Regions from separate parts of the Homo sapiens genome. Here region 1 is linked to region 2. A link means that fine-mapping ties the variant in region 2 to the expression of a gene that starts in the linked region. Tissue or cell type: whole blood. Region 2 holds a variant in brackets; the other region holds the start of a gene. All regions are shown on one strand. Distances are from middle to middle.

Evidence for each region. PIP is the estimated chance that this variant, and not a neighbour inherited with it, causes the effect.
Region 1: it holds the start of TMEM87A, and the variant in region 2 is fine-mapped to the expression of TMEM87A in whole blood (INTERVAL, PIP 0.93).

The regions. Positions count from the first base shown.
Region 1 is chr15:42,268,487-42,276,583 of GRCh38, forward strand. It overlaps TMEM87A (transmembrane protein 87A), which reads right to left and starts at 4,947. Exons shown (of 20, transcript NM_015497.5): 1 at 4,769-4,947; 2 at 3,577-3,637. The coding sequence starts at 4,912. GANC (glucosidase alpha, neutral C) reads left to right here and starts at 4,715. Exons shown (of 24, transcript NM_198141.3): 1 at 4,715-6,024; 2 at 7,862-7,924. The coding sequence starts at 5,996. RefSeq lists enhancers at 4,297-4,546, 4,707-4,936, 4,909-6,108.
Region 2 is chr15:42,235,713-42,243,821 of GRCh38, forward strand. TMEM87A (transmembrane protein 87A) reads right to left here. Exons shown (of 20, transcript NM_015497.5): 8 at 3,958-4,019; 9 at 1,720-1,903; 10 at 608-707. Among named protein-coding and RNA genes, the nearest start is that of VPS39-DT, 31 kb to the left of the region's middle. The variant C/CTT (reference allele first, on the strand shown) is at 3,037.

The DNA of each region.
Region 1 (8,097 bases), 33 kb after region 2:
GTGAGAACTCATCTCTACAAAAAATGATTAAAAAGCTAGGCGTGGTGGTACATGCTTGTAGTCCCAGCTACTCAGGCAAGGGAGGCAGGAGGATCACTTGAGCCCAGGAGGTCAAGTCTGCAGTGAGCCATGATGGTACCACTGCACTCCAGCCTGGGCGACAGAGCGAGACCCTGTCTCAAAAAACATAAATAAATAAATAAATAAATAAATAGCACAAGTATTACAAAGGTATAATGGCACACTGTTAGGCTAAAGAGGGAAACGAGTGGAAACAAATTATTAAGACCCTTCAAAAGGCTAGTTGAAGAGACAAGCAATAATAAAATTAGGAATGCATGTCACAAGGCAATATTAACAACTGTTAAATGGTGTTAAATGATGATATACATAATAGTTCCACTGAGAGCAAAATTGCTATCTCAGACCTTGAAAGATATCAAGATAGAACAGAAAGAGCAATGAACGAAAAGCAAACATGGCTGTGGAAGGTAGAAATAGCAAAAGCAAAGATAAGAGTATCAGATTTTTTTTTTCAAAGCCTACCTTAAAAGAGGCCTCAAGGAAGCTCATGTTATCATGGAAGCTTCATAAAGCTCATTAAACACAGTTTGGAACACAGTATTCTAATGGATCAAGACATTATTCTGAAGACTTGGGAGGGTAAATCTGACTATATGACTGATTAGCTGGAGGAAGTCAGTATTCGCTTTTATCTTTGATTCTAGCTATGAAAGGAAAAATATACTAAAGACTCCCTACTTTATATAAATGTAATAATAAACATGACAAAAATAAACATGACTGCATTTAGGAATCTACTTTTCATTCATAACAAAAGAAGCAACCTAATTATAAGCTTCCTTTTTTTTTCTTTTAAACTGTTTTCTCAAACTAATTTTTAGATGACCAACACATTTTCAAAGGACTCTATTAGAATGTTCAAAAATTTGACCTGTTGGATAGAATTTATGGAAATGATAAAAAGCAATTGGGCTATGAACTATTCAAAATAATCCATACAGGGACAGGATTAACTAATAAAAAGCCAGTAAGAACACATCCCCCAAACAGGAGACTTGTAAGGAAATTTGGCAGCAAAAATACTGCTGTTTATGTTACAAGACAATATTTAGAACTTTAAATGAAAGGCTTTAAGAGACAATAAGGTCGGGCGCGGTGGCTCACGCCTGTAATCCCAGCACTTTGGGAGGCCGAGGCGGGTGGATCATGAGGTCAGGAGATCGAGACCATCCTGGCTAACAAGGTGAAACCCCGTCTCTACTAAAAATACAAAAAATTAGCCGGGCGCGGTGGCGGGCGCCTGTAGTCCCAGCTACTCGGGAGGCTGAGGCAGGAGAATGGCGTGAACCTGGGAAGCGGAGCTTGCAGTGAGCCGAGATTGCGCCACTGCAATCCGCAGTCCGGCCTGGGCGACAGAGCGAGACTCCGTCTCAAAAAAAAAAAAAAAAAAAAAAATGGTCCCAGCTATTCCATGGAAAGCTATATACCATCCCCCAAAAAGTACAAAATCAAAGACAACTGGTAAATATGAGAAAGCACAGAAATAACAAAGAAAAAGATAATGTTAAAGTGTCTCAGGCCGGGCACGGTGGCTCACACCTGTAATCCCAGAACTGTGGGAGGCCAAGGCAGGCAGATAACTTGAGGTCGGGAGTTCGAGACCAGCCTGGCCAATATGGTGAAACCCCCACCTCTGCTAAAAATACAAAAATTAGCCGGCGTGGTGGCACGCGCCTATAGTCCCAGCTACTCGGGAGGCTGAGGCAGAAGAATCGCTTGAACCCAGGAAGCAGAGGTTACAGTGAGCCGAGATCGTGCCACTGCATTCCAGCCTGGGCGTCACAGCAAAACTCCGTCTCAAAAAACAACAACAAAAAATAAAGTGCCTCAAATCCTCCAAAAACAATGAAATATAAACACTTCAAAATACGCAGTTAGGGCTGGGCATAGAGACTCATGCCTGTAATCCCAGCTACTCGGGAGGCTGAGGCAGGAGAATCGCTTGAACCTGGGAGGTGGAGGTTGCAGTAAGCCAAGATCGTACCACTGCACTCCAGTCTGGGTGACAGAGTGAGACACCATCTTAAAAAAAATGCAGTTGGTTTAACTTGGCAAAACACCACTAGATCAAACTACACGAGAAAAAAAGACTGGACCTAATAAAAGAATAAAACAGCAAACAGGCTGTCAAGCTATTCCAAAAGACAAGGGTTACTAGGTTACCCAGTAAACCAATCTCACAAGGCCAGTGTCAGAGTAGATTTGATCTAAATCAAATATAAGTCACTGGTCAGGAGACTGATTACATATTCATGGATACAGTATATATTCTTCAGAGAAATTCTACCTGCTGTTTTCACTCCCACTAGAATGTAAGCTCGATGAGGGAAGAACATTTTTCTATTACTTCCCCACAGTCTATGCAATAAGTAATAATTACTCACTAAACAATTGAAAAGAATAAAATTATCCAACTATGACTTAAAATTTTGCACTTCCGTGAAGACAGTATGCATAGAATCACACATCTATCATCAGGATTTTTATCCCTCATCTAGAAATAAAGCTGCCCACGATCAATCGTTCTCTAAATTAAAGCCGGTTTCAGAACTAAAAGGAAGCTTTTACTGAACACACAATGGGATACTTTAGATTCAGATACAGTCATTTTTCCACTAGACAAACTAGTTTTGTTCTACATAATCCCTATTTCTTGATAATATCTGAGCTTCCTCTTCCAAAGCAGTAAAATACTCCTTTTGTAAATAAAGGATCTACTAAATATATTCCTTCACAGCCAACGGCCTGACAAACCTAGGTCATGTTTGCAGTAAACATTTAACAAGCACACAAGAGTAAAACCTCTTTAATCTACACAGAACAGATTAAAACCACCATGCAGGGAATCAACCCCAACATAATCACAGTCATTCACTACATAACATTTCAGTAAATGAAAGACTACATATACAACGGGGGTCCCATAAAATTGTAATATCGTATTTGTACTCTACTTTCCTATGTTTAGATATACAAAAACTTACCATTGTGTTACAACCACCTATAGCATTCAGTACAGTAACATGTTATACAGGTTTATAGCCTAGGAGCAATAGGCTGTACCATACAAACTAGGCGTGTAGTGCCATCCAGTTTTAAGTATACTCTATGATGTTTGCATAATGACAAAATCACCTAAGGATGCTTTTCTCAGAAAGTATCAACTGTAAATGTAATTCGACTGAGATGTGACTGAATATTCAATGTAGTATATACAGCATATATATTAATATATACATTATATATACTAATATATAATGTCTACATAGTGTATATATGCAATGTAAACACCAGAAAAACAAGAGAAGAAAATAAAGTTCACACGAGTACTTTGAAGATGATTCAGTAAAAGGACCTTAGTAATACTAAAAATATTTATACCTAGATAATGCCAGACTATTAGATTTCAGAACTTATAAAATAGGTAATTTAAAACATTACCTATAAATTTTTAAAATTCAAATTAAAACTTCATGAAATTCAAAAACTCACACTTCAGGAAGATAGTGGTATTTCTGAAGAGGATCTTTCCAAAACTAAAATAATTTTTCCCCTGCAAACATAAAGGAAAGATAATTAGCCTCAGATGGCTTCAATTACCAAAGCATCATATAACTATCTAAGACTGCTAGAAATTCCAACTTAACTTAAATCTTTATGGGACGTACCCCTTAATCAGTTCATTCCCTTTACTCACCAATCACTGCTCAGAATAACCAATCATTTTTTCTAATGAACTATTCTGTGTGCAAATAACCAGAGTTTTATTTTCAAATCTAAAAAGACTTAACTATTAACCATTTTAGTAACAAGTAAAAACCTAACTGAACACCTGAAAATCTTCACCACTGAACAAAAGGTATAACGTTTACCATAATAAAAGCCCAAATAAGATTTGGACATTACAGTCAGTGAGCAGAGCAGAATGAAACAAAAAGGCCAACGTAGGTTTAATGGGGCTAATGCTTTTCAGCATTTCCTCCCTGCATCTGGTTTTTGTCTGCTCACAGGACTATACCTGTTACTGAAATAAGGTTTAAAATGGGTAAGGGGCAGAAAGGGTCAACCCATGTAGTTAATTATCCAAATGAAAGACTAGCCTTACCACATTAAATTTTAAGTACTATTTCTTCAATTTTAACCATTCCCATGTTAAAACACATTTCTTAAATCTCTATGCTTTCTAGTCACACAGTAAAGCTTAGAATAGCCATTCCAAAGTTGAAGCGAAGTCGAACCATCTCGTAAGCAGAATTACCCAGGGACCAAGAAGTGCAGAGGAAGAAAAAGAAAGAAAGAAATGAAGACTCCTATTTACATATCTTTCTTATCCAACCCGGGGACACTGGATTCTGTGAAACATCTGAAAGATAAACAACTCTCCGTTTGTACATCAAGTTTACATCTCAAGTCAGGCACTGAAAGTTCTGTTTTTCTGATGAGAAGCCGCTCCACCACTCCTTTCTGTTGCTGAAGTGGCCCTTACATTCCCGCTAGCCTAATCACAGAAGTGCGCGGCTTTCCACTCCAGGGAGGTGGGTCCCAGTTGGCTAGCCACACAGACCATCCCAGCAACCCCACCCCTTTTGAAGAGACTTTTGCGGAACCTTCATGGACCCCTTGGGCCGCCGTAGCCCCACCCCTTGCTCCTCTAGGTTCAGACGTTAGTGAAGTGAATACTCACCGACGGTATCGGAATGTGCCATTTGGACCGGTCGGCAGCAGCTACGGTTGCCGGTCCCGCACTGAAAAACGACAGTGGTGACGGGTGAGCTCCCAGAAGCAGAAGAATGACAGGCAACACCTGAAGCCACGCAGCCGCCGCCATCTTCACAGCCGTGGAGTGCCTACCGAAAGCATTTCACCCTCTTCCGGTTCGTCCCGCCTTCTTCCGGCTCTGCTCTAAGGGCGGGATTATCCGGGTCCTGGAAACGTCGCGGAGCTTGTTTGCTGTGCGGCGTAGCGGCCCCTCTCTCAGACAGTCGTCTGTGCGCCGTGAGACTTTGGACCTACTGCGCAGGCGTCATCCTGTTGGAACCTGGTCAGCTGGGTTAGAGAGATCGCTACATGCCAGCCTGGCCTGAGTCTTTTCTGTCTCCCAGCCGTTAAAGGTTTTAGGACCAGGCAGGCACCCCGTGCAGGATTTGGCTCTCTACTTCCGCTCGCCCCAGCCCTTCATCCCTTCTAAGTCAATGTCAGACTTTGGGGCCAGAAAGTCTGGAAAAGCCCTAAGCCTGGCTGCCCAAGTGGCGTCTAGTAGTGAGTTCTCCGGTTTGGGTGGTATTTAAGCAAAGGCTGGAATTCGGCGGTGGTGGAGTACACGCGATTCCTAGACTGGGTAGTGTAACAACCTTCAAAGGCCCCTTCTAGCCCTGAAGAGTACGATGCTGCAGTACAATCTGGCTGGAGACCTAGCCTCCAGCAAAGACCCGGCCGGCACTTCCCACCCTTAACCGAAAACGGAGACAGAGAGGGTCAGTTTTCAAAATCTGTGGCGTGACCCCGCCACTGAGATAGATCTGCAGATGCTTCGTCCCAGTCAGGGAGGCCGTCTCGGCATTTCCAGGTTCTTAACGCTCTTGATTTTTACCCTCTAGGACTCATTGCGTACACGCCCTCACCGCCGCCCAGTTTCGGTTCCTAACAAAAGCACGTTCCTCATCAGCCACCCATAATCAAGACAAATTTGCCAAATAAATCATTGTAGAAACGCTAGTTTGGGCCTGAAAAATTCCAGGAGCAAGAGTCAAGATTTGTCACTCCATGAGAATCTGGAGGGGACTCCCTTCCCAGAAACTTGACGATGAAGTACTGGTTGTAATTTTAGAAAGACACCCAATCGGCTTTTTTAAAAGATCGCCCAGGGCCCTTGTCCTGAGAGCTGGGAGCTGGTCGGAGTGACAGAGAAGCCATGGAAGCAGCAGTGAAAGAGGAAATAAGGTAAAGGCCAAGTGCTTCTGTAGCGAGTGACCCCAGGGTCCCTAGAAACAGGGAATAGTGTTTTAATTGCATTTCTTATTTGCGTATTTGGTATTTGCTGACCTTTATCTTTTCTCTCAATTCGCGGGAAGTTAGTTGATATTAATAGCCTCTCATAAAATACTTTCAGGATGGTTAAATAGGCCGGGTGCAGTGGCTCACGCAGGTAATCCCACAGCACTTTGGGAGGCTAAGGTGGGAGGATCGCTTGAGTTCAGGAGTTCGAGACCCCCTCCCCGCCCCCTCGGAGTCCCAGCTACTTGGGAGACCACTGGGAGGATGGATTTGGAGGCTGCAGTGGAGCTGTGATCTTGCCACTGCTTGGGCAACAAAGTGAGACCCTGTCTCCAAAAAAAAAGGATGGTTAAATAACATTAACAGTGGAAAAGTTGCAATCAGAACTCTTAACACGTGAATTTCAGGCATGTTGCTTTCCAAATTCATCTATAATCACCCCTTCCTATATCATCCCAGAGTTAATTCTTCGAAGCTGTAAAGAGGAAACAAAAGATTCTCCAATCTTTGTACACTTGATTAAAATAAACTGGGCCGGTTCGCTCATGCCTGTAATCCCAGCACTTTGGGAGGCCTATAGGTGGGCAGATTGCTTGAACCCAGGAGTTCAGACCAGCCTGGGCAACATGCTGAATCCCTGTCTCTACAAAAATTTTAAAGTTAGCCAGACGTGGTGATGTGGGCCTGTAGTCCCAGCTACTCAGGAGGCTGAGGCAGGAAGATAGCCTGAGCCCAGGAGGCGGCAGTTGCAGCAAGCCAAGATCGTGCCACTTCACTCCAACGTAGGAGGCAGAGCGAGATCCTGTCTCAAAAAAAATTTTTTTAATAAATTAAAATAAACGGACAAAGACTGAGTTCAGTGAAGGACAAACAGTTTTTTAGTATGGCCAAGTATATCTGCCTGGGCTTGTTTTCATAATATTTCGACGTTTGTGTTCAGTCATAGCTTTCTACATAATCATGGACATGCTGACTACAGATGCATTCGGCCACACTAGTGCATGAAAGCCGGTGTAATTTTTTTTTCTCCTTATAATCTGTAGTTGTTTTAATCAGATGGAGGCTAGTTTAAATACATATACTCAAACTTCAATATACATATATCTCATTCATGTTTTATCCCAGAAACAGCTCTTCTGGAAACTTGGTTTTAAAAAACATGGCCCCTAGTTTGTCACCTCATCTTAAAAAGCAAGAAATTCCCCTTCTACGTCTGTTCTGTTCTTATTCTAGCACCTTGCACCTCTATTAAAGCATTTGTCAGCTTGTATTGTGATTGCTGGTAAAACCCTAACTGATAGCTTGAACACAGTTCATATCTTCCTCAGAGCCCAGCTCTCAGGAAGAATATTCTGAAAATATTTTCTTGAATAAATCGGTGGGTGGGTTATGGTTCTTAGTTTGTCTGGTTGGTTGGTTTTGGTTTGTTCGTTTTGGGATGCTGTTTTGGTTTTCCTCCTTCAGATTTTACTTTTGTGGTCATAGCCTTCAGTCATTATTTCAAAAGAATATGTCCTCATAAGTGACAGTGATCTTTTCCCATTACTTTTGGAGTAATCCCAGAACCTGATGTTTTGTTGTTTACCTCAGAGGGTTTACAAAAGGCTATTGTTCTGCAACATAATGTGCTATTATGTTATACTGTGGCCGTGACACAATTTTGCATTGCAGAATAGACTCCAAAGGTTTATTTTGCATGTTCATACTGTCGTTAGAGAAGGTACAAAAGTTGGATTCACAAGCCCTGTGTGAAATAAATTTCTCAAAATGTCTTTTTATTTAGTCTTGAAGATGAAGCTGTAGATAAAAACATTTTCAGAGACTGTAACAAGATCGCATTTTACAGGTAAGGAAAATAAATATAGTAGCTAGATCAAAACATCTCTGACAGTATTTCAAAATTGATGCTTATTAAATTTTTGGAACTGATAGACTTTCCAAGGAAAGGATAATTTAATAATTAAGGAAATCATCAGACAGGAGACTCACTTTTAACTTTATACATTTACTCCTGAAGTA
Region 2 (8,109 bases):
GAAGCCCTCCTTGATCACCCTATGTACAACTGCAAGCTCTAGCTCCTGCATTACCTGCTCCACTGCACTTTCCACTGACATATTAAAATATTTTACCCACTTAAATTTTGTCTTTGTCCCCTCCCTCCACAAATGTAAGCTCAAAATCTTCTGTTTACTTGCCATATCCCCAGGGCCTAGAACAATGCCTCAAAGAATGCCTATAGAAGACACTCCTCAATAAAAATAAAATTTTTTGGATAGAAAAATATTTTCAGACAGTTACAGCAAGAATGCGTTTCCCATAAAAAATCTAATTTGCAAAAAATATTTTGGAAGTATGGAAATATATTCGGAAGTATGGAATACATTTGGATTTGGAAGTATGGAATACATTTGGACTTGGAAGTATGGAATATATTTGGAAGTATGGAATATATTTGGAAGTATGGAAAATGAAACACATTTTCCCAACATTTACAATGCTACAAAATTTCAAATACCTTTCTTGTTTCAGAATTATTTCTTTTATCAACTATTTCAGAACTACTACATTGGGAACATGCAATACTGTTTTAATTTAATCAGCATTTTAATTTGCTCTTCCATACAGGAAGTTAATACTTACTTGACGATGCCATATCCCAGACTGACTATGATGACCAGGGTTCGAGCCAGTGAGCGTTTCACTGCTGAAAGCAGCTCTGCAAGGATCAAAGCACCCTGGACTATGAAAAAGAAGGGAAGAAATGGCACCATAATCTAGGTTTGGCAACAGGCCAGATGCCAATACTAGACTGCTGCTTTCTACACTCTTCAGAATAAGCATTGATATTAGTCCTGCTAAAATAGAATACCTCTTCCACAGTTTTTACAGGATACAAGCTGATGCCACTCACAATCTTACTCATGTCTATGTATGGCAATCTGGGTGCGCTCAACTCAGCTCCCTCCCCGACCTGGCCCCAAATTCACTAAAACTTTAACAGAATACCTCACCCTATATGGACAGTTTGTAGCATCGAGACAATTTCCCCCATTTTTAAAAACTGTGAAATACAGCTACACATAGAAAAGCACAAAACACACTCGTGTACACGCTTGTTGGCATGTACAGCTTAACTTTTTTCAGATCTACTATTTTCAAGACCTTTCAAAGACCAGGGAAAATCTTATCAGTTTATCTCACAATAATAATTATGACTAAATTAAATGGTCTGACAAGAAAAAACTGAAGCAATCACAAAAAACTACAGTATAAAACAACTTCTGTCATTACCAGTTCACCTTACTAAACCATAAGCACTCTCCTATTTTCTTGATATGACTATATTTTATCAGTTAGATGCACTTTCCCACCACATTTTGAGGTTTTTTAAATCAAGGTGTGTCTTACAATCAGTGACATTTTACAATTAAATTGACAGCTTTACTTTTTTTCTTAGATGTATAATGGTGCCTTAGAAATCAACAGAAATTGAGATTTGATGTTAATAATCATTCCCAAAATGGTCACTACTGTTGTGACTTTTGTGAGCATATTTCAGTAAAATTAGTCTTACATCACTGAACTCATAAGATTAAAAACAAAAGTCAGAGTCATAGTGATTCTGCTTAAGATATTGTAATAATTAAGTAATTGAAAAGTTAAGCCTATGTAGTGACTGCTGACCTTAGGAATATTTTCATACATCTCACCTTCCAACCACTCGAACTGGCAAAGATTTTCTGGTTACTTACCAGATTCTCCTTTGTATCGGATATTCTGAAATTCCGCATAGAAGACAGCTTTCTCAAGCATTCCCAGGAAGATGACAGCACCAATCCAAAACTGAATTCTCAGGAGATCTCTCCAGTAGCAGGCAGACCATGCCAGCCACAGAACACCAAACAGGACATATACAATACACATCACCATGAAAAACTGTTATCAAATTGGGTAAAAGATAAAAAGGAGAATTAGGGCCAAGAGCCAAGTCTGTAGATTTAGAATCAATATATACTTTTTTTTTTTTTTTAAGAGATGGGGATTTGCTATGTTGCCTAGGATGGTCTTGAACTTCTGGACTCAAGCAATCCTCCCATCTCTGCCTCCCAAAGTGTTGGGATTACAGGCATAAGCCACAGCGCCTGTCCTGAATCAATATACAGTCTTAACAAGTTACAAAAATATATTCTACCTTCTAGTTAAGAAATAATTCTTCCTTTGGAGCTTAACATTAACTAATATGAAAGCATTATCTTGTCTTGAGCAGAGAAGACTACATATGAACTTGTCCTCAAGAGCGAATGCTCTCATATGTATATATATATATGTGTGTGTGTGTGTGTGTGTGTGTGTGTGTATGTATGTATCACATATGTATACCATATAAAAGGTGCTCTCTATTATACACACAGACACATATATGGTATATATAGAGAGCACTCAGCCTGCTCTCCTATAGTAAAAGAGCTTTTTCTGGTCAGGCGTGGTAATTCACACCTGCAATAGTGCTTTGGGAAGCCGAGGCAGGAGGACTGCTTGAGGTCATGAGTTCAAGGCCAGTCTAGGCAACATAGCAAGACTCTGTCCCTACAAAAAATAAAAATTAGGCCAGGCATGGTGGCTCATGCCTGTAATACCAGCAATTTGGGAGGCAGAGATGGGCAGATTACTTGAGGTCAGGAGTTCAAGACCAGCCTGGCCAAAACATGGTGAAACCCCGTCTCTACTAAAAATACAAAAATTAGCCAGGCATGGTGGTGCGCACCTGTAGTCCCAGCTACTCAGGAGGCTGAGGCAGGAGAATCGCTTGAACCCAGGAGCTGGAGGTTGCATTGAGCCAAGATCGTGCCATTCCACTCCAGTCTGGGTGACAGAGTGAGACTACGTTTCAAGATAAAAAATAATAAAATAAAATAAAAATTAGCCAGGCATAGTGGCACACGCCTGTTGTCCTAGCTGCTTGGGAGGCTGAGGTGGAGGGTAGCTTCAGCCTGGAGTTTAAGGCTGCAGTGAGCCATTATCCATTATCATGCCACTGCACTCCAGCCTGGGAGACAGAGTGAGACTCT[C/CTT]TTTTTTTTTTTTTTTTTTTAAAGAAGGAGCTATTTCAGCTCACGATCTAAAATTATATAGATGAAGACAACACTGAAGAAGAAAAATGGCATGATGATTAGGATACATCTAGAGGCAAGGAAACACAACAAAACGGGAAAACTATTAAAGGGAAAGGAAGAAGAGAATAATCATGAACAAAGAAAATTGAAAATATATTAAGGATATTCTGAGACACAGACGTATGCACACATACATGTATGTGCACACATACACACATACACACACAAAATGAAGAGAAGGGAGCTTCATCATTTTGTTAATTTTTTGTTGTTGAGACAGTTTCACTCTGTCGCCCAGGCTGGAGTGCAGTGGCAAGATCTCAGCTCACAGAAGCCTCTGTCTCCTGGGTTCAAGCAATTCTGCTTTAGCCTCCCGAGTAGCTGGGACTACAGGCGCCTACCACCACGCCCAGCTAATTTTTGTATTTTTAGTAGAGATGGGGTTTCACCATGTTGGCCAGGCTGGTCTCAAACTCCTGACCTCAAGTGATCTGCCCGCCTCAGCTTCCCAAAATGTTGGGATTACAGGCATGAGCCAGGGCACCCAGCCTCATTTAGTTAATGTAAGTGGGATCAGAAACAATAGAGTTGTAGTAAAAAGTGCCCCACTATGCATCCTAGAGAGAATGTGAGATGATCTTTGAGGTATTTCCACAGGTCACTGACCCCTTCATTATATGGATAAGAAAATGAGGCACACAAGGGTATACTGACTCTCTCAAAGTCCCAGTCTAATAAGAAATAAATCCAGGACTACAAGCAACATTTTCTGAATTGCACAGGAACAATTCATTAAAAAGAATACTGCCACAAAACATGGGACAATCTTTGAACCCAAAACCATCCAATACTGAGGTTAAATAATATAAAGTCACTTACAATCATCAAGGGATAGTCTTCAAGTGTGAGGTATTCATAGGGACCCTTCACTTCAACAGTCACTGCCAAAACAGAGTCCTCAGAATTAATTTACAGGATGCAGAAATTAAACAAAAATATTGCCTAATATTTGTTTAATGAACTTAGTAAGAATTTCATTGGGTCATTTACTTTTAGGCACTTCAATCCTGGTCAATATTACATTATATTTGTACAGCACTTGGAAAGTCATTAAGTGTCCTCATAGTTCATGCTGTGTCCTGCACAGGTTTCCATGCCTCCACCATAGTCTGAAGTGGGAAGGCTCTTTTGTTTCCATACTCACATCTTAAAAAAGACTAGATTGAATATTTCCTCCACACAGCCTTCTCTGGCTGCCCATCTGGAACAACTCTACACATACTCTAAATTCTAAACATACTTCATATATACTTTTCCTTACAACACATCAGTAAAATATGCCTTACAGGACTTCCTTTTTACATATTGCCATCTTCTTTGTTTTCTATCTTTCCTCACCTGTATTTTCCTATTGCTTTACTATTTTTTCATGGACTCCAATTTTCTTTTATTGCTACATTCATGTATCATTTTCGGAATGAAGGCATTGGAAAAAAACTTAAAAATTTAAATTAACTCACACAAAAAAATATACCATCCCTCATACAAGATTGAAATCTAGCTTCACAATCAGGTACCCTAGATGCTCACTCCAAAATAAAAATAACTCAAAAGTTCAGATGCTTCAAGGCAAAGCTCCATCCAATAAACATAGAATTGAACTTCCCCAAAACCTGCTAGTTAACATTTTTCAAAGAATTTGTTAATAACAAAGTGTTTAATGAGACAGATAAAGTAACAGTAATAACATATATCTGAAAGACATATTTGCCTTAGTAAAGCAAACATTGACTAATTTTAAGATTATCTGTAATTTTAAAAACTATTTCAAGATGGACTATTTTATTATTGTATTGATAAAATAATTTGGATAAATTCTAGGCATAATTAATAAATAAAAATCTGACTTGAGTGGTGATCATCCCTAGAGACAGACTAATAACTGTTCATTCAACAATTCCCTACTAGCTTCTGATATACCATTATTTAAAGTAAACTACATCCAATACTTACATGAAAAAAAGAGCATTCCATAAGAGCAATTATAAAAATTTCAGAGCAGAACTATTATTAAATCTATACCTTCCTAATTCAATAAAAGAGTAAACAAAATAATTAGTAAATACTTGGATCATATTCTTTGCTTACTCTATGCCTTGGTCAGCAAAATATAGCACATGGGCCAAATCTGGCCACCAGCTTTTTCTGTTAATAAAGTTTTATTGGAACACAGCCACATCCACTCATTTACATATTGTCTACAGCTGCCTCTGCACCACCTCGCAGAGTTGGGTAGTTATAATAGAGAAAAAATTTACTACCTGACTCTTTAAGAAAAAAATTTGCTAGCCCCTGCTCTATGCTAAAATATACATTTACTAAGCACTTATTATTTGACAGGCCTATGGAAAACACAGCAGACAGAAACATGAGTAAGATGTTTTCTGCCATCAAATGGGTAACCACCTTGCAGGGGAGAGGGAGTTGACAAGCTACATAGAGAACTATCCCTCTCAGCCAGACTAGAAGGATAAGTAGAGAACTATCCCTCTCAGCCAGACTAGAAGGATAAGTATGTATTTTCCAGAACAAAGTAAAAAGCCTTCTAGGTAGAGGAAATAACATGAACAAAACAGCTGTGAAAATGTGTGGTATATTTAAAGAACAAATATAGTCTGAGACTGCATATAATACCATATAGTAGTGGTGTTTTGACATAAGGCAGCAAAAGGTAAACTGGGACCAGTTGTAAAGAGTTTTATAAACCTTGCTGCAAAATGTAGTCATTTTATAGGCAATGGGGAGCCATCCATTAAAGGTTTCGATGAAGGGAAGAAAAATGATAAAACTGTATTAGTGATGATGTATCTTCTCCATTCCAAAAAAAGACGGGTATTTTTAAAATGAAAAAACAAGGCCAGGTGCGGCGGCTCACACCTGTAATCCCAGCACATTGCGAGGCCAAGGCGGGCAGATTACTTGAAGTCAGGAGTTCAAGACCAGCCTGGCCAACATGGTGAAACTAAAAATACAATCTACTAAATAAAAATCTAGTAGATTTAATAATTTAGCAGATAAATAATAATTTAGTAGGTTGTAAAAACACAATGTACTAAAAATACAAAAATTAGCTAGGTGTGATGGTGCAGGCCAGCAATCCCAGCTACTTGGGAGGCTGAGGCAGCAGAATCACTTGAACCCAGGAGTCAGAGGTTGCAATGAGTCAAGATCACACCACTGCACTCCAGCCTGGGTGACAGAGTGAGACTCTATCTCAAAAAAAAAAAGAAAAAAAAAAAGAAAAAGAAAAAAACAAAAAAGGATATAAGCTCAAAAACAAGACAGACATTTCCAAGAATCAAAACAGAAACTCAAAACAGTGCACGAGGCCGACTCCATGATCATGTTGGGCTCTTGGGCCAGAAGCAGGCTATGGTAGTTGGAAGTGCTGTCCCTATGGGATCTATGGTAGTTGGAAGTACACTACCAATGTACTACGGTAGTACATGGGATCATTGAAGCTAGTAGGTTTCAAAGAAAAAGAAGAGGGACCAGAGCCAGGCTGGATGCATGAAGAAGCTGAAGTAGGGTGGAATAAAGCTTCTCTTCCAGCCTTTTCAAAGAAAGAAGGTTGAAAATGAACACTGGTAACTGTGCCTTGAGACTATAATCCATTAGAAAGTCATGGGCCTAAAAAGACAGGAGGATACACATGTATGAGTGAGGGGGAGAGGGACAGGGAGAGAGGGAGAGGGAGGGAGGGAGGAGAGGAAGAGAAAGAGAGAGAGAGACAGACAGACAGAGAGAATATGCGTGTGTGTGTCAAAACCAAGTAGTGGTATCCCAGAAGTTCAACAATGATTTAATGTTAGAAGATCAGTTAATTTAATGTATGACATTAACTTATTAAATGAGAAAGCCCATATGATCATTTAAATCAGTACAATTAAACTATTTGATAAAGCTAAGTATTCATTCTTAACATTTTTTTTAAAAAAGGAAACTATTCTCATTAAACTAGGAATAGAAAGGAACATCTTTAACCAAATGAAGAATATTTCAAAAGTTCTACAGTAAACACAGTACTTAATGGTGAAATATACCAATACAGCCAGTAAAGTCAGGAGCGAAGTAACGGTGGCTGCCATCATTGTTTCTATTCCATATTCTGCTTAAGAAAGCAGGGTAGGAAAGGGCCAGGCACGGCGGCTCACCCCTGTAATCCCAGCACTTTGGGAGGCCAAGGCAGGCGGATCACAAGGTCAGGAGATCGAAACCATCCTGGCTAACACGGTGAAACTCCGTCTCCACTAAAAAATACAAAAAAATTAGCTGGGTGTGGTGGCGGGCGCCTGTAGTCCCAGCTACTTCGGAGACTGAGGCAGGAGAATGGCGTGAACCCAGGAGGCGGAGCTTGCAGTGAGCCGAGATTACGCCACTGCACTCTAGCCTGGGCGACAGAGTGAGATTCCATCTCAAAAATAAATAAATAAATAAATAAATAAATAAATAAATAAATAAATAAAAAAAAAGAAAGCAGGGGAGGAAAGGAAATTGCAAAAACACAAAGAAGAAACAAGGGGGAAACCACAGGAAATAAGACCAGTTAGGAAGTTCTTGGAAATTCCACGTAAAAGATGATGACTCTATGAACTAGGCAGCAACCTTGGAAAGGAGAACACTTAAATTCTTGAGACATTAAAAACTACCAATGTTAATTAATTTTTTTTTTTTTTTTTTTTTGAGAACAAGAACGAAAGTTCTTGTTGCCCAGGCTGGAGTGGAATGGCGTGATCTCGGCTCACCACAACCTCCATCTCCCGGGTTCAAGCGATTCTCCCGCCTCAGCCTCCCAAGTAGCTGGGATTACAGGCATGTGCCACCACACCGAGCTAATTTTGTATTTTTAGTAGAGACGGGGTTTCTCCATGTTGGTCAGGCTGGTCTTAAAACTCCCGACCTCATGTGATCTGCCTGCCACGGCCTCCCAAAGTGCTAGGATTACAGGCATGAGCCACCGCGCCCGGCCAA